4 linked regions of the Homo sapiens genome follow. The protein of the gene in region 2 interacts with the protein of the main gene of each other region in a pairwise test. Each region holds a gene or a part of one and is shown on either strand. Other genes may lie near its edges.

Region 1 (8,185 bases), on a different chromosome or scaffold from region 2:
AGGCGTGGTGGCTCACGCCTGTAATCCCAGCACTTTGGGAGGCCGAGGCGGGCAGATCACGAGGTCAGGAGATCGAGACCATCCTGGCTAACATGGTGAAATCCCATCTCTACTAAAAATGCAAAAAATTAGCAGGGCGTGGTGGCGGGCGCCTGTAGTCCCAGCTACTCAGGAGGCTGAGGCAGGAGAATGGCGTGAACCCAGGAGGCAGAGTTTGCAGTGAGCTGAGATAATGCCACTGCACTCCAACCTGGGCGATAGAGCAAGACTCCATCTCAAAAAAAAAAAAAAAAAAGAGGAGAAGAGAGAAAGAGACAGAGACACACAGGGAGAATTCCAAATGACAACAGACGCTGAGATAGGAGTGACTGTCTATAAGCCAAAGAATGCTAGGGTTGACCAGTAAGCACCAGAAGCTGGGGAGAGGCAAGGAATAGATTCTCCTCAAGAGCACCCACAGGGAACAAACTGAGCTGACACCTTGATTTTAGACTTTCACTCTCCAGAGCTGTGAGAGAATAAATTTCTGTTCTAAAACACTCAGTTGTGGTACTTTGTTATAGCAGCCTCAGGAAACAAATATAAATATTAGGAAACAAATATAATATTTTGCATATAAATTGCATTTTTAGCTTTATGTATTAAATATATGGTTGGTGGAATAAGCATTTATAACAAGACATAACCCAGTTTCAATTATTTTTCCTTAAATCACATCTTATTTTAATTCATTACAAATACACTGCATTACTAATCCAAATTGTAGAAGTCTGAAATTTCTTTAGAAAAAATATTAATTTGCTGGTAATAAGCATTTTTTTGAAAATGTCTCTACCTTGAAACAAAACACAGCTACTTAAATAGTCTTATTTTCTCCTGCCTCTAGTTTTTAGAGGCAGTAAAGGGAAGTGGTTAAGACCTTTGCCTTAAGAGACCATCAGGATTCAAGTTCTGATTCTGCTGCTTCCTAGCTACTGTATGGGACCTTAGACAAGTTACTTGGCTATGGTGTCTCAGTCTCCGAAATAATAAAAGCATTAATCTCTTATGGTTGTTGGGTCAATTAAAAGAATTAATACATGTCAAAGTCTCAGATGGTTATTGTCTCATAGCAAGGGCTATAGCCTGAATGTTTGTGTCACCCCCACATCAAATTCATATGCTGAAATCCTAACTCTTAAGGTGATGGTATTCGGGGGTGAGGCTTTTGGAAGGTGATTAGGTTGTGAGGGCAGGGACCTCATGATTAGGATTGGTGTCCTTATAAAAGAGACAGCAAAATGCTAGCTAGCTCCTCCCACCATGTGAAGACACAGTAAGACCCTTTCTATGGACAAGGAAATGGGCCCTCACCAGACACTGAATTCGCTGGCACCTTGATCTTGGACTTCATAGACCCCCAGAACTATGAATAATACATTTCCATTGTCTTTAAGCTAGCTAGTTTATGGCATTTTGTTATAGAACCCTGAATGGACTTTGCCAGTGAGCTATTCAACACATGCTACATATTAGTCTCTCTTTTTTAAATTTTTTAAATTATACTTTAAGTTCTGGGATACATGTGCAGAATGTGCAGGTTTGTTACATAGGTATATACGTGCCATGGTGGTTTGCTGCACCCACTGACCCATTAGTCTCTTTCTTTTTACTACTTGTAACTTCCTGCCATGAATAGACTGCATAAAACAACTCTGACCCATGACTTACCCGATCACAAACATTATGTAGTCCTCCAACACATATATAAACATGTTAAACATCATCCAACTGTTGACCCCATCCAACATTCTGCTATTTTTCTCCATTACTTTATATTTGTTGAAGTACCACCCTCCTTTAAAACCCAGCTCATATTTTATATCCTACTGATAGTCTTCGTAGATCACCCACGTATGACTTCTTCTCACTCCCTCTCCTATATTCCCATAGCACAAGGGTGAAGCTCTTAAACACAGCATGCCTTGGAGTTATTTGTGCATACTATGTCCCATTTGGTAGACTATCACCTCCAGGAGAGTAGGGTCTGTACCTTTTCAACTTTGTATCCCCTATAGTACCCAGCAGAGAATTTTACACTTAGTAGAGCCTCAATAAATGGTTGTTAAACTTGGTTGAACCCACATATTTTTTTTTCTTTGTGGCAGATGCCCTAAGACAAAACATAAAATAAATGAATTACTTTTCTTATTTCCATTGCAATATATATGCCCTGGGCTAGTGGGTATTTGCAAGCCTGGTTTAGAACTTAGGGAAGTCATCAATCTAGGAAAGGAGAGGAAATACATTTTAAATCACAAAAGCAATATAGCCTTATATAAGGCCTTCTTAGCAAAGCAATTATCAATGGCTCAATAACCCAGGTGCTAGTGTTATTATGAACAAAAGTCTGAGGCTGAGAGACAATGAGTGATCTTAACTTTTATATTCCATAGGTATGCAACTCAATGGAACATGTACAGATGGAAGGTTTAGATCTGAGAATCATATCTGTGTATTACAATGCAAATAACTGACCATCCTTCTAAAGAACATCTGTTGAAACATCTGAAAGCAGTTGTTTATACGGCTGCCAAAATGCTAAAAAATATAATAATTCTCCAGTGAGGTTAGAAATATCCAGGGGAAGAAAAATACTTTTTTATGTAGTTCTGCTTTATTAAATCTTGTTGTTTTTTCTCTAATATGGCACATAGGAGATGCTCAATAATATCTGTTGAATGAATAGCAGAAACTCATTAAACAGTTGTTGAATGAATCATCTCTGTTTTTTTAGACTTATAAGGCACATTTTCAGAAAACTGTATGCCCAAGTTTTACCACATTGTATACCATTTTTATTTGGCATAAATTTAAGTACTGCTGCTCTTGCCCTGAACATTATAAGATGTAATGAGCACGGATATCTATAAGAAAAACTATCTTTTAACACTACAGAAAATGTATAAATAAACCTAGATATACAATAGCAGTATTTTTAATTATCTTAATATGTCACTTTTATTATTATGGGACACTTAAACTTTGAGTTGTGAGCTCATATGAATCATATTCGCTTCAAAAAACAAAATAAAATTTAAAATTCCTGCTAACGTGTATAGTTATGATACCTCTTAGAAGATTGTAACTTTGGATTTAAAAGCACCAAAATATTCTGGTATGTGAAGAAGAAGACTGCAGAAGATGAAGAAGCCATTTCTCCCCATACCCCCTTTCTTGAATTTCCAGCAGCTCTTTCTTCCATACTCCTGTGTAAGTGAGGCAACTGCACTCCCCAAAGACTGCCCAAATTTTACTCTGCCAGGTTTCAGCACAGAAAGAGCATGTTAAATAATACATGTGAATTTGAGTGTAACTAATAAAATTGGAACGTTAAATAGCAGCATGTTTTTGAAAACCAGCCTCCTTGTGATGACGTTCCTTGTGCAAGTCCATGGGAAATAATTCTGAAGGGAGTGTTATTAATTAGTAATGTAATTTATCTTCTGGAAGCCCTTTCCTTTGATGGCCGCTGTGGTACAGTTTATAAGCCTCCAAACAAGTGCTCAAAGAAAACTGTTCAAACCACAATTTCAGCTTTGTTTTCACCCTTGAACAGATAAGAGTAAAACTTATTTTGGTATATCTAAATTTTACACATGCCTCTTTATGGTGGAGGATTATGAAGTTATAAATATATATTTATGAAGAGTTTTTAATGAAATGGTAAAATGTCTGGGATGTAATAAGAGGATAAAATAGTAGACTCCAAAATTAAATTCATGGCTTCTGATTCCAGATTTCTTGGTTTCAGTTCTCACCACCCTATATGAGGTACGCAACTATGGCAATATACTTAATTGTTCCGTGCCTCAGTTTCCTCAACTACGCTATGAAGGTGATAGCAAAAATTATCTCAAAAGGATATAGGGTGTTCAAAATAGTGCCTGGCAAATAATAACAAATTATTATTATTACTGATTCACAATAATTTCAAATTTATAAAGGAAAAATGAAGAGTGAGGAGGGTTACCTTGAAGGGAATTGGTAAAATGTTAATATGTACTTCTAAATGACATGATTATGGGCAGTTCTTTTCTGCTTTGTATACTTTTCAGTATTTATTCTTTTAAAATAAACTCAAAGAATTAAGTTTTATGCATCAATGGCTTGATGGAAATTAAGGCGGAAATTTGGAATAGGTTAAAATGTATAACTGATTAGACTGCAGCATTAATGAAATATTAATTAAGCCTATTGTGATGTGACAGAATTAACATTTACCTTATTTTACTTAATTTTAAGTACATTCTGACAAATTACTTTTTAAAGTTCAACCAATGTCAATTTTACATTCATAAAGTCAAATGTTTATTTTACTTAATTTTAAATACATTCTAACAACAAATTACTTTTTAAAGTTCAACCAATGCCAATTTTACATTCAGAAATAAAGTCAAATGTTTATTATAATGTCAATATTTCAACCTACTAAAACTAAAAATATTTTAATTTTTGATTTAAAAAATCCCACGCAGAAGTCCCAAAGGTGCCTTTCATGTTTAAGCTTTAATTAGCAACCACTTTGGTCTCTGACACATATTGCGCAGATATTGAAGTGTTAATATTACTGCAGCTTGATTACAAAAGGCAATGATTAATTTTAAAGCAGACAAAAAAGATATGCCCTGATTACAAAGGAATGATTAAGGCGGAATGTCAGACATTGCACATTTATAGCAGTCTTTGCCATCGTCAAAGTATAAGACTTTGTAAAAGTTTATATTTAGAATCACAGTTACTTTGTACTTTATAATATTCAGTGTTTGCGCCTTGGATACCGGGCAACCCTACTCCAACTGGGCCTAAGACCTTTGGGGTTCACATGCCCAGGGCAAACCTGCCCCCCACAGGATGGTCCCAATGAGCCGCCGTAGTTTAAGTTCTCACAGGCAAGGCCCGACCTGAAGCACTGGCTCCAGCCTTAGGGAAGGTTTTGGCCGTGGGTTTTGTTGGCACGTACCATTTTGCTGAAAGACAGAGCACCTTGAGGACGTTATCCCTAAAATGAGAGAGGACTGGGATTGAAAGGCTGACTACAGAAATGGCTGCTGCCCAGACGCCCTCAAAAGCCAAGGTCTTGGCAGCCTTTTTATTTGCCACCAAAGCGAAAAACAAACCCAGGGAGGGACGGAGGCCTGAGTCAGGGGTTCCGCCAGGGAAAAAGGCAGACCTTGAAACTGCCCTCTTAGGGCGTGAGGGAGAAAAGCCCGGTTTGTAAACTGTAACGGGAAACAAAGGCTGAGGGCAGGAAGGGGCAGCAGCGGCCAGCGTCCCTAGACCCTCAGACCCCTCAGACACCGTCTGGCGTCGGGCTCCATCTTCTTGCTGGGCTGGCGACAGAGGGTTGGAGACAGGTCTATCTGGGAATGGTTCTAGAAGAATCCATCTTCTTTATTCTGCTTTCCAGGATCCTCAGAGTTGGTTATAAAATATTTAAGGGCGAGAAAAGGATCGCAGGAGCCAGGCCCTGAGATGAGCTTGGAGTCCCTGTTTCAGCACATCATCTTCACCGAGCATCAGGCGGAGGAGAGTCGCCGTTTGATGCGAGAAGGTCGGGGTATTTCTGTCCTTTGCATGGGGCCTTTTGTCTTCTGATGCTGGGTGCTTGGAGCAGAAGGAAATCCCGAAGGCAGTGGTCAGAGCCGTTAGGGGAGCTTGCATGCCATGCTGAGGGAAAGACAACTGAAAGGTGGCTTATCAAACGCCACCAAAATGGGGACTTTAGAAAGATTGATGTGTTTAAAGATTTAATTTTTATTACAGTAAGGTCGGAAATAACCAGATGTCGTGAAAAAATTAAGAAAGCAACGGAGGAGCTGAATGAAGAGAAAATCAAGCTGGAATCTAAGGTATTGAAATGTAAAGCATACTAATTATCACTTGAAAAAGCCTGCCTTAACTTGACTTTTGGGGGATATTTCAGTGTTTAACCAGTTGTCCTTCAAGTAGGAAGCACGTTACTCTGTGCTGGCTGTTTTAGTTCCATGTTGCCTGGTGATGTTTAAAGTTCTGAATCCCGTGACACCTTCAATTCCAAGACGAATTTGCCCTAAATAAACTAAGGTAATGAAGAATTCATTGTCCATTTTGTGGGATGGTTAAGGTTTTAAAAGAGCACAATGTCATTAGAAGAATCATTATTCCACTTATTTAATAAGTAGTTGGTGCAGTATATACATTTTGAATGATAAATAATTTGTGTGCTATGTTGATATAACAATTGCATGTAAATTTCAAACAAGCCCCTGCCTTTAGTTTTAAAAGTCTCTACCACATTTTAGACATGCCTTGCGTCCGAAGTATACCTTTTCCATTAGCGTTTCTCTCTTTCCTGCAGCGTTTGTAATGTTCTGTTATTTTAAAAAGAAGCAAGAGAGTCTGATGGCTTCTTGAAGGATGGATAGAATTTTGAAGAGGCAAATAGAAGGAAGTAGTAGGAGGAAAGCGTTCCAGACAGAAGGAGGAGGCAGATATGTGCAGTGCATATTGGGAAAGGAATCTAGTCAAAGCAAAGGGCTGATATCTGGGAATAGCAGAAAACCGTTGCAAGTTCCTGATCAGGGAGCAGTAAAAGTGGGTTTAGGTAGCCTAGTATGGTGGCACATGCTTGTAGTTCCAGTTACTCAGGAGGCTAAGGTGAGAAGACAGTTGTTCAGTTTAATGCCAGCCTGGGCAACATAGTGAGACCCTGTCTTTAAAAATAAAAGGTAGTTTTAGGAGGATCTTTCTGAGCTCTGATTGGGAAGATGGGAATAGACTATTAGGAAGCTAAGAATATTATTTAAGTGTGCCACAATGAAGGCCTCGCTATGGGTGGGGACAGAGAGTTATTCAAAAATATTTATTAAGTACCCAGTGATGAACTAAACAAGCACTGTGTAATATGAAGTCTGTTTGAGGAAGTCTGTCTGCTTCAAATATAACTATTTTAACTTACCACTTTGAGGAATTTTCAGTTTTCTTTGGGAATGAAACAATCAGAGAACACTTCTCCATCTGGCGAATTTCAGCTTTTCTTTCCAGGTGTTGCTCAAACATCACCAATAAAGCCTTCTTTATTTATACAATATTTATTATTTATACAATAAAGACATCTTGGTAAAATTTTAAAATTAAACAATGATACATACTTGTATTTGTGTTTGTATCCCCCACTATTTTGTGAGCTGCGTATCTGGAATTTTTTTCCTTATCCATCTTTTATTCTCACTGCCTGTTATCTAACAGTATATAGTATACAGTAGTGTGTTGAAAGAATTGAGTACTAATAGTTTGATAGATAATAGGGAGAGTCTTTTAAAATAGAATTTGTAACGGTTATTCAGTGAGATCCTTCCTCCTGTTTTGCCTGTGAATAGTAGGTAAACTAGCTGCTACCAGCAATGCTGAAAGCTGGTGGTATGGGCAAAACATTAAGAATGTTATGATGCAACTTTCTTTCTCTTGAAAAGGAATTAAGACACTTTCAGGATTGATATCTAGAAGCTAATAGAAGTAATGGGCAAAATATGAGCACTTACTGTATGCAGGGGCACTGTTCTAAATGCTTCTCCTGTATTAACTCCTTTAATCCTAACAGGAATCTTGTGATGAGACCCCATCATTATCCCCTTTTTATGAGTGAGGAAACTGAGAGGTAAATGACTTGTCCACGATATATAATTCAGAAACAATTAAACTACCATAATGAAAGTAACAATTGAGTAATAACAGCATATTTTATTAAAGCAGATTTCTTAAGCTCACTTTAAACATTTTTCGTCATGACATTCATGTATAATAATATAACTGAAGTTTTGTATCTTGTTTAGGTTAATATTTTTAAAAGGTTGCTTATACAAGTTTTTGTACAAAATGCATTTTTCCTGGATTGGTGAGGATATTGACCTGATATAATATATTTTTTAATGTTACTCTGTAATATTTTCTTTGTTAGCAAAGTTTTGTTTTGTCTGCAAATGGAAATGTAATTTGTTGATATATACACATACATTAAAAAATGTTGATTCAGTTGTTTTTACTAGAAAGAAGACAGAAAAGGCCTACCATTGTTTAGAAACATTTGTTGAAATTACTAATTAATATAGGTTCATAAGCATGCATTGCTTTTTAACCAGCTCATATATGTGGGTAATAATACATT
Region 2 (8,190 bases):
CCTCAATCTTGGAGCGCCAGAGCTCAGCCGAGCTCACCGGCTCCCTAGGGAGCTGGGGCAACTGTTAGCTCCCCCTGACCTGTGTGATCCTACGTCCAGTGGCTGCCCCGACCTCTGTGATCCCACGTCCAGGGGCTCCCCCGACCTCTGTGATCCCACGTCCAGTGGCTCCCCCGACCTCTGTGCTCCCACGTCCAGTGGCTCCCCCGACCTCTGTGCTCCCACGTCCAGTGGCTCCCCCGACCTCTGTGCTCCCACGTCCAGTGGGTCCCCCTGACCTCTGTGATCCCACGTCCAGTGGCTCCCCCTGACCTCTGTGCTCTATGTCCAGTGGCTCCCCCTGACCTCTGTGATCCTTTGTGCAGCGGCTGCTGGCCTCTCAAACTTAATGTGTTCATTGCGGAACTTGCTATTCCTCTCCTTGCCAGTTTGCTCCTGCCCCATCTGCCTCCTGCAAGTCTGCTCTGTTCCACCTTCAGGACGCACCCCGAGGCCGTTTACTGCTCCCATCCTGGGTGGTCTGGCCACTGCCATCCTCAGTCCTCACCTGAGGCTCCACTCCCAGGCTGTCCTCTCCCTCAAAGCTCAAAGTCTCTTCAAGTTTCCCTGCACACCAGAACGGCCCCAGTTCCACCCAAGGCATGCACACAGCCCCACCCCGCCCACTCCTATTTCAGGGCCTTTGCACACCCCACAGCTGGAATGCTGCCCCACGTCTGTGCCGCTCACTGGAGCCAGTGTCTTGCCACACCCCAGTCTCCATCTTCTTATCCACAACGCTGGTCCCTTCCTGCCACTATATCACACTGAGTGTGGGCTGGTCCACCTACTACAAATGGTCAGGCTAGAAGGATACAAGAGACCCCCGCCGAAGCCTGGCACCCATCAAGGGCTAGGATGCCCACAATTTGTCCAGCATGGAGGAAGCAGCAGGGCTCAGCCATGCCTTTTTCTTTTTCTTTTCTTTTTTTTTTTTTTGAGACGGAGTTTCGCTCTTGTTCCAGGCTGGAGTACAATGGGGTGATCTCGGCTCACTGCAACCTCTGCTCCCGGGTTCAAGCAATTCTCCTGCCTCAGCCTCCCGAGTAGCTGGGACTACAGACACCCGCCACCAGGCCCAGCTGATTTTTTAGATTTTTAGTAGAGACGGGGTTTCACCATGTTAGCCAGGATGGTTTCGATCTCCTGACCTCAGGTGATAGCCCGCCTCTGCCTCCCACAGTGCTGGGATTACAGGCGTGAGCCACCGCGCCCGGCTGGCTGAGCCGTACCTTTAGTGGTTTCCACTTCTTCTAGTAACACCTGGGAGATATAGTGGATGCTCCTCAGGTATTCCGTGTATGCCTCCTGTGTCCAGGAAAGAGAAAGAGTGGGGTCAGGCCAGTGGAGGGAAGTGACTCCATTATTCCGGCCAGGTGCCCTTGTGGGATAAGCAAGGAACACCACCACCTGCTTATCTCTGAGATACACCCAGAGACATTGAGCCTGCGGTGGTTAGCTGCAGCCGGAACACGGTTTTCTGCGCAGGGCACAGGCAGCATCGCTGCTCTCCAGACTTGGAAAAGACATCAGGACCTGAGAGAGAGAGAGAGCCAGGGACGAGCTGGACCTCATTTTCTCCTCTGACTGCCTTTCTCTCCAGCACAGGAACTGATATTCTCATTCAGTGGGCCTGGGGAAGTGACCTCAGCAGTTTGCTGTCATTTTTCATTCTATGCAATGTTTCCTTCTTGTGCAACTCAAGGGTGATTCATTCAGTGGCTTAAAAAAATACTTTTCTGAGAGGATAAAGGGAGTGATACTGGAAGTTTTCAAATCACTTCCCGGTTTAAGTTCCGAGAAATCCCTTTCCCAGAACCTGCGAGTTACGTATTTCCAGTGCACACAGGAGCCTAGAACTGTTACCTTTCAAGGCTGTGTGACCCCTCTGACAAGGCACAGGTCATTGGAACCACAGAATGGTGGTTTGTTTTGTTTTGTTGAGACAGAGTCTCACTCTGTCGCCCAGGCTGGAGTGCAGTGGCAGGATCTCGAGTCACTGCAACCTCCGCCTCCTGGGTTCAAGTGATTCTCATCCCTCAGCCTCCCAAGGAGCTAGGATTACAGGTGTGCACCGCCACACCCAGCTAATTTTTGTATTTTTAGTAGAGACGGGGTTTCACCACGTTGGCCAGGCTGGTCTCAAACTCCTCACCTCAGGTGATCCACCGCCTGGGCCTCCCAAAGTGTCAGGATTACAGGCGTGAACCACAGCGCCCAGCAATATGCTATGTTTTTTTGTTTTATCCCTAGCTGTTAAGTTTCCTATCTTTAAGTCTATGCCTCAGAGAGAAAGACGAAATATAATCCAGGCAGGATTTCTGACTTGCGGGGGCACCTGCTGCCCTAAAAACCAACTTGGGGAAAGCAGCAGATTCAGGAACGAGGCTTCTCCTAGGCACAGGCAGGCTCCTTCCCTCCTTGGGCAGCCGGGTGTGGCTGGGCCAGCTTCTCTACCTGGTCGCCAACCTTAGATTCGGCCCCATCTCAGGAACGGGCCACACCCCTCCGGCCTGCTTTTCCTTCCTAAGACGACTGCAAACAGCATCACAAATGAGCAGGTATGTGGCCTTCTCTGCATGCCGTCCCCTGTGGCAACCGGATTAAATCTACCATCTCTGCCCAGAAAAATGCACGAACGCACGGACCTGCCCGTCACTCGGATTTTGGAAGGTGGCCTGGCGGACCCTCCTGCTACATCTCCTCTACAGGTGGAGCCCAGGCTGTGATGCACCGGCTCAGCGAGCGGAGTGGAAAGCCAAGGTCCGCAGGATCTGAGCTGTCCAAGGTCACTGCACGCCCGGCTGCGCCCCGCCCCCGTCCTCGCCCGGGAACCGCGGCCCGGGATCCCGGCTGGCGCCCGCTCCCAAGTCTCCAGCCCGAGCCGGCCCCGTCCTCGCCCTCCCCGGGCGGGGGTCCCTCCAGGGGCCACCCTCAGCGGCCAAGCCCCGCCCCCGCCCCGCCTCACCCGGGGCCGGTTGCCGGTGTCCAGCTCGATGGCCCCGTTGGCAAGCTTCATGGCGCTCTGCAGCGGCTTCACCGTGCCGTCCCCGGCCGCAGCGGCCATGGCGCCGAGCGGGGGAGGCGGCGGCGGTAGCCGAGGGGCTGGACGGGCGACCGGAGGCCCGGAACGCAGCCGGCGCTGGTGCTGGAGCCGCCCGAGCAGCGGACCGCAGGAAGGGACGCGGCCGCACTTCCGGCGACGGGCCCCCTCCGCGCGTACTGCGGGCCCCACGGGTGTTAGTGGCGGGGGCGGCAGAGTCCGGGTGGGTTGTCGCGACGGAGCCGGGCCTCTTCGCCGTCTTGAGACGGGGCTGGCGAGAAGGGCCCCTCACGGAGTTGCCATGGGCGTCTAACCGCGGCAGCCAGGCCCCTCTCTACGTGAGACCCCGGCCCCCCTCCCCTTTCTGCAGCCCGCCCGCCACCTGCGCGCCGCGTGGCCTCCGCCGGCGCCTGCCCGCCCCGCGCCTCCGTCTCCCACGGTAAGAGGCGGTGAGGGCCGCGTCGCCTCTCCCTGGAGGACTCGTCGTGAGGTGTCGGCGAGCCCCTCCGCCCACCGCCCCGCCCCAGGCCAGCGCTCCATTGGCGACAGAGGCGGGCACGGCCGCCCTCGGGCCCGAGAGGGGAGCGGTACGAGCGGGGGCGCTGGCACCGCGGGTGGAACCTCGGCCGGCGGGGTCCCGCCCCTGGCCCCTGGCCCGCCCCGCCCGCCTCGCTTTGCTTCTCGCTCCGCCCCTCCCCCGCCCCGCCTCGCTTCCAGCGCGCCGAGCGGAGCCTAACGCCGGGTCCTCTAGGAACCTCGGGCCGGGCAGCACCCGCGGGATTCTGCTGGCGTCCTCCGCTGCCATGAAGCGGGACCGGCTGGGCCGCTTCCTGTCTCCTGGGTCGTCCCGACAGTGCGGGGCCTCGGACGGCGGCGGCGGCGTCAGCCGGACTCGGGGCCGCCCTTCCCTTAGCGGTGGGCCGAGGGTGGACGGGGCGACGGCGCGGCGCGCCTGGGGCCCGGTGGGGTCCTGCGGGGACGCGGGCGAGGACGGCGCGGACGAGGCAGGTGGGTCCGCGGCCCGGGCGTGGCGGGTTGGGGTCGCGGCAGGGGTTGCTCGTGGGAGGAGCCGCACTGACGCCCGGAAGCCGGCGCGGCCTCTCCTCCACCCGGCCAAGGGCGTAGCGGACTCGGGGCTGCGTCGGGATAGGCGCTGGGCGGCCGGCTCGGTTTTCCTCGCGCTCCGTGACGCCGGCGTCGCCGGCCCGGCCTCCCCGGCCGCGGGCTCGGCCAGAAGGGACCCGGCGTGAGGAGCGCTGTCACCGCGGGCAGGTCGCCCTGGGGTGCCCGCGCGTGGGAATCGCCCTCCCCTGCTTCGTGCCCTCGCGGAGCCGGAAAGGAGGCGGCACCTGCAATTGGCAGACAGGAAACCGCGGCGTTTCCTGGAGGGCGCAGCGCCTGCCCCGGGTCTCGCGGTCGCTGGGAGGAGGGTGCAGTTCCAGGTTTCACTCTTGAAGTTGCTTCGCTGGAGAGGCCTTAGAGGCCTTTGAAATTTGAAAGATTTCTTGGACCAGCGGCCACATCCCCCACAGGGCGGCTTGTCCCGCCGAGAGCCGCGCGCCCGAGCCGCTTGCTGTGTCCGGGAGCCGCGCGAAGGGCGCTGCAGGCGCTGCCCTCGGACCTGGAGTCCGGGACGCCCTGTGCTCAGGAGCCTCCTTTGCCAGCTGCTAACACTTCCTGCCGCTCTGTGCAGGAGCAGGCCGGGCTCTCGCCATGGGTCACTGTCGCCTCTGCCACGGGAAGTTTTCCTCGAGAAGCCTGCGCAGCATCTCCGAGAGGGCGCCTGGAGCGAGCATGGAGAGGCCATCCGCAGAGGAGCGCGTGCTCGTACGGGACTTCCAGCGCCTGCTTGGTGTGGCTGTCCGCCAGGACCCCACCTTGTCTCCGTTTGTCTGCAAGAGCTGCCACGCCCAGTTCTACCAGTGCCACAGCCTTCTCAAGTCCTTCCTGCAGAGGGTCAACGCCTCCCCGGCTGGTCGCCGGAAGCCTTGTGCAAAGTACGCCCTAGTCTGTTCAGAGCACGTTCAGGCTGTCAGTACTGCAGTGTGACGGGTGTTGAGAGAGGGACAGGGCGTGCCTCCGCGGGAGCCTCTGGGTGGGGGGAATGGGCCATGCCCGGGTTCAGTGCCAACAGCCCTGGGACTGTTGTGGAGAGATGAACTGGGAGGAGCTGGGGTGAGGGAAGAGAAAGTTGCCTATGGGGACCGCTGAGGTTTGAGATCTCGAGAGGGTCCCGTACGACGAGCGCTGTGAACCTCCGCCTGCTTGTCCTGCTCATGGCCACACTGATCCTTTGCAGGGTCGGTGCCCAGCCCCCAACAGGGGCAGAGGAGGGAGCGTGTCTGGGTGAGTCCTCCCCCGGTGGAGGGTGGGCTGGGTGCCGACCAGCCGTGGATCTGACATCTCTGTTGACTCTCTGCAGTGGATCTGATCACATCCAGCCCCCAGTGCCTGCACGGCTTGGTGGGGTGGGTGCATGGACATGCGGCCAGCTGCGGGGCCCTGCCCCACCTTCAGAGGACACTGTCCTCCGAGTACTGCGGCGTCATCCAGGTCGTGTGGGGCTGCGACCAGGGCCACGACTACACCATGGATACCAGCTCCAGCTGCAAGGCCTTCTTGCTGGACAGTGCGCTGGCAGTCAAGTGGCCATGGGACAAAGAGACGGCGCCACGGCTGCCCCAGCACCGAGGGTGGAACCCTGGGGATGCCCCTCAGACCTCCCAGGGTAGAGGGACAGGGACCCCAGTTGGGGCTGAGACCAAGACCCTGCCCAGCACGGATGTGGCCCAGCCTCCTTCGGACAGCGACGCGGTGGGGCCCAGGTCGGGCTTCCCACCTCAGCCAAGCCTGCCCCTTTGCAGGGCCCCAGGTAGGAGGCACCTCTTGCTGGTGCTAGACCAGGATGTGTGCTCCTCAGTGGGGCAGGGTTTTCAGCAGAAAGTGAATGTCTCCACTGCTCTAGGTGGTGGCTGGGGTGTGGTGTGAGAAGGAGCAGAGCTTGGGGCTTCTGCCTGCGGCTGCTCACCACATCCAGAGAGCAGGGAGGGGCGGCCAGCCTGTCTCCGCCTCTTGCTCCTCTGTGAGCAGGGCTCTGTTCCAGCAGTTTCTGTGGAGACACGCTCATCAGCCGTCGAGTCTTTTTCTAAGCCTGTGCTTGGGGCTGAGGGGACTGAGGAAGAGGGAAGAATAGGGCCTTGTCTGTGGATGTGGGAGAAAAGAATGGCCGTTGCCTCTGCGGCTGCTGCCCTGGGCCAGCTGCAGGTCATTTCCTGGCACTCAGCCAGCCGCCTGGTGACACCCTGGTGTGGGCCAGTGTGGCGCAGCTTTCTCTGCTGACAGGCTGAGGGGAAACACAAGGCCCTTGTTTGGGCCCCAGAACCCATAGCACTGTGGGCTGGTGCAGCTGCTCCTGGATGTTGTTTTAGGAGGGCCAGGGCCAGTTTCCCTCCGGCCTCTTGTCCTGTGTGTGCTCTGTGCACCTGTCCCCACCTGAGCACTCAGTTCCCACTTTGAGTCTTGAGGGGAGCTTCCGAAAAGCGTAGCTACCTGTAATCCCAGCACTTTGGGAGGCTGAGGTGGGTGGATCACTTGAGGTCACGAGATCAAGACCAACCTGGCCAACATAGCGAAACCCCATCGCTAATAAAAATACAAAAACTAGCCAGGTATGGTGGTGGGCATCTGTAATCCCAGCTACTCTGGAGGCTGAGGCACGAGAATCACTTCAGCCTGGGAGGCGGAAGTTGCAGTGAGCCGACATCGCACAACCGTACTCCAGCCTGGGTGACAGAGCAAGACTCTGTCCCAAACAGAAACACAGCTACCCAGATAGTTTAGCTAGATACGGGTGCACAGATGAGACAGTGCGGCTCGGGGGCCTCAGGTAGGAACGGGATTGTGAGTGTCACATCTTAGAGCTGCTTGGCTCTGTAAACTTGTATGCAGTGTGTTGAGAACAATTCTATCTATCTGTGTATCTATCTACCTACCTACCTATCTATCTTCCTACTTCTTTGTCTCTCTCTATCTACCTACCTATCTGTATATCTATGTATCTACTTATCTACCTATTTATCTATTTATTTACCTACTTATCTATCTATCTATGTGTTTATTTATTTTTGAGACAGAGTCTCGTTTTGTAGCCCAGGCTGGAGTGCGGTGGTGCCATCTTGGCTCACCGCTACCTCAGCCTCCCGAGTAGCTGGGATGACAGGCACATGCCACCACGCCCACCTAATTTTTGTATTTTTAGTAGAGATGGGGTTTCACCATGTGGGCCAGGCTTGGTCTCGAACTCCTGACCTCGTGATCCACCTGCCTCAGCCTCCCGAGTAGCTGGGATGACGGGCACGTGCCACCACGCCCACCTAATTTTTGTATTTTTAGTAGAGATGGGGTTTCACCATGTTGGCCAGGCTTGGTCTCGAACTCCTGACCTCGTGATCCACCTGCCTCAGCCTCCCGAGTAGCTGGGATGATGGGCACGCGCCACTACGCCCACCTAATTTTTGTATTTTTAGTAGAGATGGGGTTTCACCATGTTGGCCAGGCTTGGTCTTGAACTCCTGACCTCGTGATCCACCTGCATCAGCCTCCCAGAATGCTGGGATTACAGGTGTGAACCACCGCGCCCAGCCAAGAACAATACTTTTTAAAACTTATTTTAGGCCAAGTGCAGTGGTTCACGCCTGTAATCCCAGCACTCTGGGATGCTGAGGTAGGCGGATCACGGGGTCAGGAGATCGAGACCATCCTGACTAACACGGTGAAACCCCATCTCTACTAAAAATACAAAAAATTAGCTGGATGTGGCTGTGGTTGCCTGTAGGCCCAGCTACTTGGGAGGCTGAGGCAGGAGAATCGCTTGACCCTGGGAGGCGGAGATTGCAGTGAGCTGAGATTCTACCACTACGCTCTGGCCTGACCGACAGAGCAAGATTCTGTCTAAAAAAGAAAAAAACAAAACAAAGAAAACTTATTTTAAGTAGAGACAGGGTCTCACTCTTTTGCCCAGGCTGGTCTTGAATTTCTGTCTTCAAGTGATCCTTCTGCCTTGGCCTCCCAAAAGGCTGAGATTATAAGCATGAACCTTCAGGCCTGGC
Region 3 (7,315 bases), on a different chromosome or scaffold from region 2:
AGATTTTTAAGGAGAAAACCACACTTAAGTAGAGTTTTGCACATACCGAGAAAGAAGTAAACACTTCTACAGGAACTAATCTGGCCCAATGCACAAGTCCTCCCACAGGACCTGAGCAATGCCCTCTTTAATACTCTGAGCACTGCAGTAGGAATATACTGCCCAATAAGGGAGGCCTCTTTCTGAATGTGAAACATTCTTCTAGTCAGCCAAACCTTGCTATGCCATCTACCTTTTCATTCTAAAGCAGCAGGGTGGCCTAACTGACCCTGAGCTGATTCGTTTTGGCTGCTAGAAGACCAGTGATTTCTTGATCATACATATGGTCACCCTAATGATAGGGACATAAACAGCACTGTTTTCCCAAGACCACTCCATTTTCCTGGTAACTTCTTATCCAGCATCCACAAGGCTATATGGGGAACATCCATATTCTTATAGGACTATGCTCCCCTGCCACAGAGATGGATATTTGACACAAACTAAGCCAGTCAGAATCCTTCTCCAAGATTCTTTTCTTAACTGAAACTAAAACAAGGCATCCATTCCTCTTAGATGGTAGAAGCCACAACATTCTAAGCCTCAGAAGCCGTTAAGGCCCATGTTCCCTACCCATGTGCAGCAAAGCAGCCCATAGTGAAAGAGCGAAACTAATAACCAGGGAGCAGCAGAGGGGAGAGCCCTGGTAGCATCTGATTCTCTTGCTCCCAAAGTCTGAAAGGCCCAGTGATACCAGAGTCCTTCACAGTTTATGTGTTAAACCCTTCCTTCAACCCAGAATCCTTCTAGCAAACTTCCCTTTGCACATGATAGTTTACATTGCGAGTCTGCAGCCATAAGAAGGCCAAGGGAAAGCACATGAGTGGACTCATCTCTGAGCAATGGGCGAGGGAGTGGTACTTTGCAGGGGACTACCTATGCTATGGTGAGGGATGATAAGCCTATAGAAATAGGAATTACTAAAGTTATTCTGGCAGTGGTCACACAAGCTGATGATGTCTGGAGATAGTAAAATAACATGAGTGTGGCTCTCTGGAGCCATAAAATAGAGACCAATCCTTCCTATGGACTTTGAAGCACTTTAATGTAGCTATCAGGTCACTTTGATTAAAAATACTTTAAATTCCTTTATTTTGATCACTGCCTTCTTGATATGTTCCTGTATTTTCTCTTTCAGTTTAGATCCGTGAATCTTTTTCAAAATTTCTTTAATTTTTAATTTTTACTGATATAAATAGCTGTACATATTTACGATGTACATGTGATATTTTGATACAAGCATACAATATGTAATGATCAAATCAGGATATTTGAGATATCCATCACCTTAAACATTATTTCTTTGTGAATCTTAAAGAGAAAGGGGCTGCTTGTGTATGTGTGCATACAGGCATATCCCTGTGCTCACACTACACTCAGACTAAGACCGCATCAGCATCTGTATTTTTTAAAACTATGTATAGGGCTTTTATCCTTTTAAAAAAAATCTCACTTTTTGATTTAATTCACCATTCACACTTTTTAAATATTGCTTTAATAAATGATTCTCTCATCTAAGCATCAATAAACATAATGAACATTGTCTATAAAACCTGCTTCTTTTTTCAGCTTTAATTATGGAATAAAAAGGGGGAGAAACATTTGATTAAGAGATAGTAGCTATAAACTCAGTCATCTAGAATATTGGTCTATATGACTCATAGCTTTTGGATGCAGGAAATATGGGTCAAACTAGAGACCTGACATGATTGTATCATGTCAGCTTGGACAACATGGCAAAACCCCATCTCTACTAAAAATACAAAAAATTAGCCAAGCATGGTTGTGCGTGCCTGTAATCCCAGCTACTCGGGAGGCTGAGGCTCGAGAATTGCTTGAACCCGGGAGGTGGAGGTTGCAGTGAGCCGAGATCACGCCACTGCACTCCAGCCTGGGTGACAGAGTGAGACTCTGTCTCAAAAAAAAAAAAAAAAAAAAAAGAAAGAAAGAAAAAAGTTACTGCATAGTTTATTTTAATGAAAGTCCATGTATGAACATATTTTAAAATGTAAATTCTTGTTGTTAATACATTAACATAAAGACATATACTACTGCCTCCGAGATTGGAATACCCTCAATATTCAACATCAGCTACTGTAACTAGGAACAGCTAACTCCTGACTAAAATGTTGAGGGTATCACTATTAGAGAACCCTACTGCTCACAGAGAAGTTTCACAAACATGATTGTATTTGATTGTATAAGAATCCAGTGAGACGGCCAGGGGCGCTGGCTCATGCCTGTAATCCCAGCACTTTGGGAGGCCAAGGTGGGTGGATCACCTGAGGTCAGGAGTTCGAGACCAACCTGACCAACATGGAGAAACCCTGTCTCTACCAAAAATACAAAATCAGCCGGGCGTGGTGGTGCGTGCCTGTAATTCCAGCTACTCGGGAGGCTGAGGCAGGAGAATCACTTGAACCTGGGAGGCCGAGGTTGCAGTGAACCGAGATTGTGCCATTGCACTTCAGCCTGGGCAACAAGAATGAGACTCCGTCTCAAAAAAAAAAAAAAAAAAAGGAACCAGTGAGACATTGCTAATAGTATTATACTGCTAGCTCTAGTTTTGAAACAGGTAAACTGAGACTGAAAAAGGTTATGAGACTTGTTTAGCTTACACAGCTAGTATGTGGCATGTCTTCAGACTACAAATCCCATGGTCCTTCTGCTAACAGCTGAAATAAACAGTTTGAAGATTCTAGAGAGTTTTAAATAAAACTGACATTTATAAAACTTCAAATTACCTTGCCTAATTGTTCTTGAGCTCTCTGTAGTTCTTGTATTCTCTGCCTCTCCTTTTCTTGCATTTCCAACTCTAGCTGCAATGCCAGCTGTTGCTGAATATTCAGAAATATGTCATATTACAGTTAGATTAATTGCAAGATAATTAAGTTTATACCCACCTTCATTTCAGAAACTTACAATACATGGTCACATCCAACTAATACTTTAGTTTCTACAAATGCTTCCTGAAGCATAAAATTTTTAAAAAAGATTTTAATCTTCCTTAATTGCAAATTATAGAAAGCACAATTTGTACAAAATTATTTTCCCTTTTCTTCTTAAAGTAACAAATGAGATTGCAACAATTTTCCAGATAAATTTCTTTAAGCATAGATGGGTCTTCAAATAGCCACACACTGGTTGTGGAAGAGTGGGTGAGAAACTCTTCAGAATATCATCTGATGGCTCATGCCTGTAATCCCAGCACTTTGAGAAGCCAAGGTAGGCAGATCATCTGAGGTCAGGAGTTTGAGACCAGACTGGCCAACATGGTGAAACCCTGTCTCTACTAAAAATACAAAAATTAGCTGGGCAGGGTGGCACATGCCTGTAATCTCAGCTACTCGGGAGGCTGAGGCAGGAGAATCGCTTGAACCTGGGAGGTGGAGGTTGCAGTGAGCCGAGATTGTGCCATTGCATTCCAGCCTAGGCAACAGAGTAAGACTCCCTCTCAAAAAAAAAAAAAAAAAAGAAAAGAAGAAAAAAGAATATCATCTGAAATCATTACTAACCAACAATATATTTGCTCCCAACTCAGCATATCTGTCACACTAGAATAGGGTTCAGCAATAAAGCCTGTGGGCCAAAGCCAACCCACCTCCTGTTTTTTATAGCTTACAAAGAAAGAATGGCTTTTACATTTTTAAATAGAAAAAATTTAAAAGAAATAATATTTCATGACATAGGAAAACGGTATGAAATGTAAATTTCAGCATCCTTAAAGCTTTATTGAAACACAGCCATGCTAATTTGTTTACGTATTGTCTACGAGCGCTTTTGTGCTGCCATAGCAGAGTGTAGTAGTTATAACAGAGACCACATGTGGTGCACTCACCACTTTGCCTGGCTGCCCAGCACACTACAAACCGCAGTAACATCATTGTAACAGCAGTGTTTGGAGTGCCATGGTATCACTATACTGTGACATTTAAAAAAATTATATCCATTATGTCAAAACAAGAAAGCCAGGGATGGGTGGCTTATTCCTGTAATCCCAGCTACTCAGGAGCGAGGCAGGAGGATTACTTGAAGCCAGGAGTTCAAGACCAGCCTGGGCAGCATAGCGAGACCCCCATCTCTAAACAAAATTTTGAGAAAAAAAAAAGAAAAATAGTGAATTTTGAATGTCGCACTTTTAAGGCACACTAGAGTGTGTATTATTTTGTCATCAAATTAAATGGCAAAACATGTTTCTTGCTATACAGTGCCACTGTACCAAAAGAATATAATAAATATCAACATTACCAGACTAAGCACTCATCACAATAGTCCCAGCTCACAGAGCACAAAGGCCAAAAAAAATTAGAAAATGTAAAACAGAATTGGCTGGGCATGGTGGCTCACACCTGTAATACCAGCACTTGGAAGGCCTGAGGACAGGAGTTCAAGACCAGCCTGGCCAACATGGTGAAACCCTGTCTCTACTAAAAATACCAAAAAAAATTACGCGTGGTAGCAGGTGCCTGTAGTCTCAGCCACTTGGGAGGCTGAGGCAAGAGAATTGCTTGAATCTGGGAGGTAGAGGTTGCAGTGAGCTGAGATCGCACCACTGCACTCCAGCCTGGGTGACAGAGCGAGACTCTGTCTTAAAAAAATAAAAATAACAAAAACAGAATTATCACAGCAGAATTTATTTACAAAAATTAAAAATGAAAATAAGTCTGCAACAAAAGTAGGGTTCCAAGAGGCTCATTTGTTATGAAAGCAAGGAAAGATATTTACCAATGATGAGTGAATTAAAACATGTTTTATTTCAGTGGCCAAAAAAAATGTGTCCAGGAAAAAACAAACTTGTCTAAGATTTTAGCCTTTTGGTGAGAGCAGCTGCTCAGAGTTGACACTGGGAGCAACATCAGTAGTCAACTAATAACAAGGCACATGATTCTGAGTGGCTTTCCTTGGCTCCTGATAAGCAGACAGATGTTCCCAACACTGCTCAGTTGTTGTTTATGGAAAGGGTCAATGCTGAGTTTGAAGTGACTGAAAAACCAAACCTCTATGAATAGTCTTTGATATGGTTTGGCTATGTCCCCATTCAATTCTCAACTTGAATTGTATCTCCCAGAATTCCCAAGTGTTGTGGGAGGGACCCAGAAGGAGTTAACTGAATCATGGGAGCTGGTCTTCCCTGTGCTATTCTCACGATAGTGAATAAGTCTCACGAGATCTGATGGGTTTATCAGGGGTTTCCACTTTTGCTTCTTCCTCATTTTCTCTTGCTGCCACCATGTAAGAAGTGCCTTTCGCCTCCCACCATGATTCTGAGACCTCCCCAGCAATGTGGAACTGTAAGTCCAATTAAACCTCTTTTTCTTCCCAGTGTTGGGTATGTCTTTATCAGCTGCTTGAAAATGGACTAATACAGTCTTCATGGAACAATTACAGACAAGAGCATTTTCAAAGTCGTGTAGAAACACTGATTCAATACAACCTGCAGTGAAATCTGCTAAGATGTGTCATAGCTGACAGTGATAAAAATACATGTGGAATAGAAAAAGGCTGAGCTGAACAAATTTACAAAGCTCATGAGAAAATAGTGTTTAAAGCCGGGAAGTGTTCATCATATTACTCAACAGCAGCTACTCTGTGAAAGTATTTGAATCTATTATGTGTTATTGATCCAGCAGTGTCAACAGTGACCTTCATTCACTCTTGTAAACTGGACCATCAATTCTGTGAATTTTTGTCAGAAACAGAAGCTGAATATATCCTGATGTCCTACCACACAGCAGTTCCATGGCTTAACAGTTATATTATGAATTTTTGAGCTCAGGGTCAAGATTTAACTTTTTATTGTGTAAATTGAAGATGCATATAATGTTTTGATATATATAGTGAATGCTTACCACAGGTAAGCAATTTCAATATCCATCATCTTAGACAGTTACTTTTGTATGGTAAGAGCACCTAAAATCTACTCTCTTAAAAATTTTCCAGTACACAATACAATCTTATTGGCTATCATCCTCATGCTGTACTTTAGATCTCTACATTTATTCATACTACACAATTGCAATTTTGTACATTTTGACCTACATCTCCTCATTCTTCTTCCAGGCCTACCCCCACTCCACCTCTTGGTAACCACTGTTCTATTCTCTCTTTTTATGTATTCAACATTTTTTTTTTAAGATTTCTACATAGACAGCATGTGGTATTTTTCTTTTGATGTCTGGTTTATTTCACTTAACATCATGTCCTTCAGTTTCATCCATGTCATCACAAATGGCAGGACCTACTTCTTTCTTAAAGCTGAATAATATTCTTTTATATATACATATATGTGATACATATATGTGAGATATATATATACAAGATATACATGAGAAATACATCTTACGTTTTTTCAAGACAGGGTCTTGCTCTGTCACCCAGGTGGGAGTGCAGTGGCACTGCCTCAACCTCCAGGGCTCAATTAATCCTCCCACCTCAGCTTCCTGAGTAGCTGGGACCACAGGTGCATGCCATCATCATCATGCCTGGATAATTTATACATTTTTTCTAGAGATGAGGTCTCCCTATGTTGCCCAAGCTGGTCTCGAACTCTGGACCTCAAGTGATCCTCAGGCCTCGGCCTCCCAAAGTACTGGGATTACAGGTGTGAGCCACTGTGATCAGCTCACAATTTCTTTATCCAGTCATCCACTGACAGACATTTATGTTGTTTCCAAATCTTGGCTATTGTAAATAATGCTGCAATGGACATGGGAGTGCAAGTAGTCTCTATAAGGTGCTGGTTTCATTTCCTTTGAATATATACTGAGAAGAGGAATTACTGGGTCATATGGTAGCTTTTAATTTTTTGAAATACACCCATACCATTTTGCATAATGGCTGCGCCAATTTGTATTCCCATCAACAGTGTAGAAGAGTTCACTTTTCTCCACACCCTCACCAATGTGTGTCTCTTCCCTTTCTTTTTTTTTTTTTTTTTTTTTTTTTTTCTTTTTTGAGACGGAGTCTCACTCTGTCACCCAGGCTGGAGTGCAGTGGCGCGATCTCAGCTCACTGCAAGCTCTACCTCCTGGGTTCACACCATTCTCCTGTCTCAGCCTCCTGAGTAGCTGGGACTACAGGCGCCCGCCACCACGCCCGGCTAATTTTTTGTATTTTTAGTAGAGACGGGGTTTCACCATGTTAGCTAGGATGGTCTCAATCTCCTGACTTTGTGATCTGCCCGCCTCAGCCTCCCGAAGTGCTGGGATTACAGGTGTGAGCCACTGCCCCCGGCCATGTCTCTTCCCTTTCTGATAACAGCCATCTTAGGCTGGTC
Region 4 (7,315 bases), on a different chromosome or scaffold from region 2:
AAACAGCTAATGGCCATTGGGTTGTCTCCAATTTTTGACATTAGAAACAATGCTTGTTATGAACATTTATGTAAAAATTTTTTCATGGACATATGCTCATTTTTCTTGGGTATAGCTAGGAAAGGAACTGCTGGTTCAAGTAACTTTATGTTTATCATTTTGAGGAGCTATCAGACTGTTACATAGCAGATCCACAACTTTGCAATTCCACTAGCAGTGATGAGGGTTCTGCTTTCTCCATATCCTTGTCAACACCAATTTCAAACCATCATTGTGGGTGTGAAGTGGTATTTTTTTCCTTCTTTCTTTTTTCTGAGACAGGGTCTTGCTTTGTTGTCCAGACTGGAATGCTGTGACATGATTACAGCTCACTGAAGCCTCGACGAATTCTCCCATCTCAGCTTCTCAAGTAGCTGGGACTACAGGTGCATGCCACCATGTCTGGCTATTTTTTTTTTTTTTTTTTTTTTTGGTATATTTTGTAGAGACAGGGTCTCGCCATGTTTCCCAGAATGGTCTCAAACTCCTGGACTCAAGCAATTCTCCCACCTCAGTCTCCCAAAGTGATGGGATTACAGGTATGAGCCACTGTGCCCAACCATAAAGTGCTATTTCATTGTGGTTTTCATTATTTATTTCTTGATGATCAATGATGTTGAGTATCTTTTCATTTGCTTGTTGGCTATTTGTATATTTTCTTTGGTGAAATGCCAATTATTTGTCTTTTTTATTATTGACATGTGTTTTTGTAGAGCACCCAATCCTGTTGCTGTTTGGGGTGCCACTGTGTAACCCACACGGACCTATGGGACTGAATAAAGGGGGGCAAACGCGGGAATAAAAGACAAGAGACAAAAGAGTATATTTGGAAGAAGGGGTCGGGGGCACCTTGCCTCTAGTGGACAAGGGCCCTGAGCTTTACACAGCCCTCCATATTTATTAGGCAAAAGAGATAGCAAGAAGTGGAGGTGGGTGGGGGGTGGGTGTCGTCAGCAGTTTGATTCACGGCAGGTTTGTAAGACTGCATTCTTCAAACAATAGGCGCTAGATTTCTCAATAGATAACTTTAAGGAGCCCACTGCCAGGGAGTGAGGCCCTCAGCAAACCTTTTGGTGGCAGGGCAGTATCAGTTTGCCCACATTCTGCATTCATGATAAACAGTTTGCTGTTTGATCATATAGCCTCCAGCGGAATGCTTAGTTGGTCATGATCCCTTTGGCCTTTTGAGCTCCCAACATGTTTTTAACATATTCTAGATGAATCTCTTACTGGATGTATTTTTTCCTATTTTGTAGGTTGTCTTTTGACTTTCTTTTCTTTTCTTCTTTTAGGTACAGGGTCTTGCTCTGTTGCCTAAGCTGGAGTGCAATGGCACAATCAGCTTACCACAGCCTCAAAATCCTGGGCTCAAGTGATTTTCCCACCTCAGGCTCCTGAGCAGCTAGGACTACAGGTGTGCATCACCATGTCTGGCTATAAAAAAGAATTTTGTAGAGATGGGGTCTCACTATGTTTCCCAGGATGGTCTCAAATTCCTGGCCTCAAGTGATCCTCCGGCCTTGGTCTCCAAAAGTGCTGGGATTACAAGCATGAACAACTGTGCCCAGACTTGATTTTCTTTCTTAAGCCCCACATTTGAACTGATGGTCTTGACTTTTTGATACATGTTTTTGTAAAGCACACAAGTTTTTAATTTTGATGAGGTCTATTAATTTATTTTTCCTTTTGTTGCTTGTGGATTTGGTGTTATTTCTAAGAATCCATTGCCATATCCAAGGTCTTAAAGATTTACCCTTGTTTTCTTCTAAGAGTTTTAGTTTCAGGTCTCACAAATGTAGTCGTCTGAAACATTCTGAATTATTTATATGGAATGAATTAGGGGTTCAACTTCATTCTTTTCTATGTGGATCTCCAGTTTTCTCAGCATCATTTGTTGCAAAAACTATTCTTTCCCCATTAGATGGTCTTGGTATGTTTATTTTAAATCAATTTACTCTAGATGTATAGGTTTATATGTGAGTCTCCATTCTGTTCCATTGACCCAAATGGCTATTTGTTATTCAGCCTGACTACTATAAAAAATACCATAAATTGGTAACTTAAACAACAAAAATTTATTTTTCACAGTTCTGGAGCTGGCATATCCAAGATAAGGTGCTGGCCTGACTGGTATCTCGTGAGGGCTTTCTCCTTGGGTTGGAGATGTCTGCCATCTCTCTGTGTCTTCACATGGCCTCTCCTTGGCATATGCATGTGAAGAGAAAGAGCTCTCTCTCTATTTCTGTTCTTATAAAATTACCAGTTCTATCACATTAGGGCCCCACCCTCATGACATTGTTTAACTTTAGTTAACTCCTTCCTATAGGCATTATCTCTAAATACAGTCACATTAGGGGTTAGGGCTTCAACATATGAATCTGGGGGAGACACAGTCTGTCATATGCCATTACTACACACAATCTTGATTACCGTAGCTGTGTAGTAACTTTGGAAGCCAGGAAGTGTGAGTCCTTCAACTTTGTTCATCATCTGAAAAACTGTTTTGGATATTCTGGGTTCTCTGAATTTCCATATTAGTATTAGGATCAACTTGTCAATTTCTGCAAAGAAGCCAGCTGGAATTTTGATGGAGAGTGAATCTGTGGAATCTGTACTTCAACTTAAAGGTATTGGCATCTTATCAATATTAAATCTTCCAATCCATGAATATGTGTTTTCTTCCCATGTACGTCTTTTAAAATTTCCTTGAACAATGTTTTATAATTTTCTTTCTTTTTTTTTTTTTTTTCGAGATGGAGTCTCACTCTGTTGCCCAGGCGCAGTGCAGTGGTGCGATCTTGGCTCACTGCAAGCTCCACCTCCCGGGTTCACGCCATTCTTCCGCCGCAGCCTCCCGAGTAGCTGGGACTACAGGCGCCCACTACCCCACCCGGCTAATTTTGTTTTTGTATTTTTAGTAGAGATGGGGTTTCACCATGTTAGCCAGGATGGTCTCGATCTCCTGACCTTGTGATCCATCTGCCTCGGCCTCCCAAAGTACTGGGATTACAGGTGTGAGCCACCGCACCCGGCTATAATTTTCATTCTTGTATTTCTTTTTAAGAAATCTCTAAATATTTTCTGATTCTATTGTAAATGGAGTTATTGATATCATTTTTTTGCTGTTTGTGTATTTTGTTTTTTTGAGACAGAGTTGCGCTCTGTCACCCAGGCTGGAGTGCAGTGGTGCAATTTTGGCTCACTGCAACCTCTGCCTCCCAAGTTCAAGTGATTCTCCTGCCTCAGCCTCCCTAGTAGCTGGGATTACAGGTGCGCATCACCATGCCCAGCTAGTTTTTTGTATTTTTTAGTAGAGATGGAGTTTCACCATGTTGGCCAGGCTGGTATTGAACTCCTGGCCTCAAGTGATCCACCTACCTCGCCTCCCAAAGTGCTGGGATTACAGGCAGGAGCCACTGTGCCTGGTCTGATTTCATTTTTGGATTGTTCATTGCTAATGTACAGAATAACACAGGATTTTTGAGTATTTATCTTGTATCCTGCAAATGTGCTTGCCTATTTGTTCTAATAGCTTTATTTGTGGATTCTTTAGGATTTCCTACATACAAGATCAGTAATTTAAGATAGAGCTTGTTTTACTTCTTCCATGCCAATCTGGATGCCTTTTATTTTTTTCTTGACACATTGCACTGGCTACAACCTCCAGTATAATATTAAATGTAAGTGGATATAGCAAACATCCTTGTCTTGTTCCTGACCTTAGGAGGGAGGAATTAGTTTTCAGCATTCCATATATTAGGCATGGGTTTTTCATAATGCTCTTAATCAGGCTGAAAAAGTTCCCTTCTCTTCCTAGTTTATTATTTTTAACATGAAAGAATATTGAATTTTGTCAAATGAGTTTTCTGCATCTATTGAGATGACTATGTTGTTTCTTTTATTCTGTAAATATATTACAATATATTGATTTTTAGATTTTAAGCCAATATTGCATAGTTGGGATGAATCCCACTTGTTTATGGTGTATAATCCTTTTTATATGTGGTTGGAACTGGTTTGCTAGTATTTAATTGAGGATTGCTGTGTTTGCTAGATTCACATGAGGTATTGGGCTTTCCTTGTGATATTTTTCTCTATCTTGCTACTAAGGAAAATCTGTCCTCACAGAATAAGTTGGGAAGTGTTCCCTCTCTTCTAGTTTTTGGTATGAATTTGTGAAGCATTGGTATTGATTCCTATTTCAACTTTTGGTAGAACTGACCATGAAGCCATCTGAATCTGAGCTTTTTTTCTTTTCTGAGGGGGGCGGGGCCAGGGGCAAATTTCAAATTCCCAATTCGATTTTTTTTTTTTTTGAGACGAGTTTCGCTCTGTCACCCAGGCTGAAGTGCAGTGGCCCCATCTCAGCTCACTGCAACCTCTGCCTCCTGGGTTCAAGTGATTCTCCTGCCTCAGCCTCCTGCGTAGCAGGGACGACGGGTGTGTGCCACCACACCCGGCTAATTTTTGTATTTTTAGTAGAGATGGTGTTTCACTATGTTGGCCAGGCTGGTCTCGAACTTCTGACCTCAGGTGTTCTGCCCACCTCGGCCTCTCAAAGTGCTGGGATTACAGGCATGAGCCATTGCACCCAGCTCCAATTCAGTATTTTTACTTATTATGGGTTCATTCAGATTTTCTAGTTGTTCTTGAGTGAGTTTCCATAGTTCATGTTATTCTAGAAATGTGTTCATTTCATTGAGATTATCTGATTTGCAGGCATACAGTTATAGGGTCTGGTGTGTCTGTTTCAAAGGTTCGGTTGCTGGGTGTTGTTGGAGACAGACTGGCTAGCCAGTGTAGCAGGAGTGTACTTGGGAGGCTCAGGGTAGCGACTATGCTGCAACTGGCATGTAAATACAGTATCTTAACAGTTTAACAGTCAGTACAGCCTTTCTGGTTCATACAAGTGAATATCAGGCCTTGCTGTATAGGATGTCAAACTGCCGATGATTATCCCTGTTCTGAATTATTTAATAATAAAAATTTAAAACACAGACACATAGCTAAAAGACATAAAACATAATAATACAGGCTGTCCCCCATCTTTTTTTTTTTGAGATGATGTCTCACTCTGTCACCCAGGCCAGAGTGCAATGGTGTGATCTTGGCTCACTGCAACCTCTGCCTCCTGGGTTCAAGTGATTCTCCTGCCTCAGCCTCCCGAGTAGCTGGGACTACAGGCATGCACCACCATGCCCACCTAATTTTTGCATTTTTAGTAGAGACGAAGTTTCACCATGTTGACCAGGCTGGTCTTGAACTCCCACCTCGGCCTCTCAGAGTGCTGAGATTATAGGCATGAGCCACTGCTTCTGGCTACCCGCTCATTTTTCTTTTCAGTAAAAATCTTTACTCCATCGGAGAAACCAATCTTAGCCAGGCTTGTCAGAGAATAGACTCATGCATAAGTCTCAAAAAAAGATGGGTAGTAAGACGGTGGCTCACGCTTGTAATCCCAGCACTTTGGGAGGCCGAGGTGAGCAGATCATCTGAGGTCAGGAGTTTGAGACCAGCCTGGCCAACGTAGTGAAACCCCATCTCTACAAAAAATACAAAAATTAGCCGGATGTAGTGGCACTTGCCTGTAATCCCAGCTACTTGGGAGGCTGAGGCAGGAGAATCACTTGAACTTAGGAGGCAGAGGTTGCAGTGAGCCTAGATCGTGCCACTGCACTCCAGCCAGGGCGACAGAGTGAGACTGACTCAAAAAAAAAAAAACAAAAAAAATGGGTAGTAAGACACTTCTAAAGGTGTCTTCTTCAATGAATAGAATTCTGTTGTAACACAGAATTCAGTTATCAAGACAAATATCCAGAAAATGGTTGGTTTACATCTTGTTTGTATTAGGGCTTCCTTTTATTTTCATACATCTTCTTATTAAACTATCTCAAAGAGTAGAGATTCCTATTTCTGTTGACACTTAATAGCTTTTTCACTACATGTAATATTAAGTCCATATACCTTCAGCTTTTTTGAACCACCGTGCGCAGCTTGTTTTAGCTTTTTTAAAGTGAGTTTTAGATAAACCTAATTTGCTCATCCTTGATTAGGAATTCCCCAAATTGGCTCTAAAATGGAATTCAGTTTGCCTCAATATACATTTACTGAGCTTATAATATCCATTAAAAAAAAAGCAGCCAGGCCTGGTGGCTCATGCCTGTAATCCCAGCACTTTGGGAGGCTGAGGTGAGCAGATCACAAGGTCAGGAGATCGAGACCATCCTGGCTAACATGGTGAAACCCCGTCTCTACCAAAAATACAAAAAAAATTAGCCGGGCATGGTGGCAGACGCCTGTAGCCCCAGCTACTCGGGAGGCTGAGGCAATAGAATGGCGTGAAACCAGGAGTCGGAGCATGCAGTGAGCTGAGATCGCGTCACTGCACTCTAGCCTGGGTGATAGAGTGAGACTCTGTCTCAAAAAGAAAAACAACAACAACAAAAAAACTATGTAACAAATGCAAAGATAACATATGAAGGAGACAGAAATGTGTATAAATTTGTATAAAAGGCAGACTGGTACCAATGCTAATTGGGATTATATAGGAATAAACCATTAACTTCTAAAATTGAAGCATAATTGCATTGCATTTAGTTGAATGCAGTGTTTATAGAGTTCAATGAATTTTGAGAAATAAACTTGCCAATCAAGATATAGAAACTATCTACAAAGTCCCCTTGTGCCCCTTTCTAGTCAATACCCTTCCAAGCTCAAAGGAAACAACTACTTTGATTTCTATTGCCACAGATTAGTTTTGACCTTCATATTGATGGAATTGTACAGTACCTAACTCTTTTGTGTCTGCCTTCTTTTACTCAACATGTTTTTAAGATTCACCCAGGCTGTAGTGTATATCAACAGTGTGTATTACTCTGAGTAGTATATCACAATTTATATTTTTCTGTTGATGAATATTTGTGTTGTTTTTGACTTTTTGGTATTTTTAATAAATTAGCCGTTAATTCTAATTGAGCAAAATATTTCCCCCTAATAGGACATGAAATTTGAAATATCTTAAGAAATTTCTTATTCATAAACAAAGTTGAACCAAGTGTAACTTAATGCTTATTTAAAGGCCTCTTCATGGCAGTAGCAATAAATCAAATACAGGTTTTAAAAATAGCTACTCTTTTTTGCACCTTTACATTCCAGTCTGATAAATATAACTCACTTATATAACTACATAAATTGTCGTTAAGCTCTGTATTCCACAATTTCTCTTAGCCCAGGAAAGCAAGAAGTGATGATAGCATTATGGGTGTGTGTCATTTAT

The links.
Region 1: the proteins of VPS9D1 (region 2) and CCDC172 interact in binary tests that used the Homo sapiens proteins (3 or more experiments, as listed by UniProt).
Region 3: the proteins of VPS9D1 (region 2) and DYDC1 interact in binary tests that used the Homo sapiens proteins (3 or more experiments, as listed by UniProt).
Region 4: the proteins of VPS9D1 (region 2) and AAMDC interact in binary tests that used the Homo sapiens proteins (3 or more experiments, as listed by UniProt).

What each region holds. Positions count from the first base shown.
Region 1 is NC_000010.11:116,319,498-116,327,682, forward strand, and holds the start of CCDC172 (coiled-coil domain-containing protein 172), read left to right. Parts: upstream 1-4,950; 5' UTR 4,951-5,116; intron 5,117-5,148; exon of another isoform or gene 5,149-5,252; intron 5,253-5,449; 5' UTR 5,450-5,514; coding exon 5,515-5,593; intron 5,594-5,805; coding exon 5,806-5,891; intron 5,892-7,660; exon of another isoform or gene 7,661-7,678; intron 7,679-8,185.
Region 2 is NC_000016.10:89,717,756-89,725,945, forward strand, and holds the start of VPS9D1 (VPS9 domain-containing protein 1), read right to left. Parts: upstream 3,144-8,190; 5' UTR 3,107-3,143; coding exon 3,008-3,106; intron 2,828-3,007; exon of another isoform or gene 2,613-2,827; intron 1,629-2,612; exon of another isoform or gene 1,450-1,628; intron 1,348-1,449; coding exon 1,272-1,347; intron 768-1,271; exon of another isoform or gene 764-767; coding exon of another isoform or gene 691-763; intron 411-690; exon of another isoform or gene 1-410. Other genes in the region: ZNF276 (zinc finger protein 276), read left to right, coding at 3,886-4,090, 4,776-5,079, 5,382-5,428, 5,505-5,954.
Region 3 is NC_000010.11:80,339,486-80,346,800, forward strand, and holds part of DYDC1 (DPY30 domain-containing protein 1), read right to left. Parts: intron 5,331-7,315; coding exon of another isoform or gene 5,298-5,330; exon of another isoform or gene 5,260-5,297; intron 2,877-5,259; coding exon 2,784-2,876; intron 1-2,783. Other genes in the region: DYDC2 (DPY30 domain-containing protein 2), read left to right, coding at 5,298-5,330. UniProt on the Homo sapiens protein: Functions as part of axonemal radial spoke complexes that play an important part in the motility of sperm and cilia. Plays a crucial role during acrosome biogenesis.
Region 4 is NC_000011.10:77,824,144-77,831,458, reverse strand, and holds part of AAMDC (mth938 domain-containing protein), read right to left. Parts: intron 1-7,315. UniProt on the Homo sapiens protein: May play a role in preadipocyte differentiation and adipogenesis.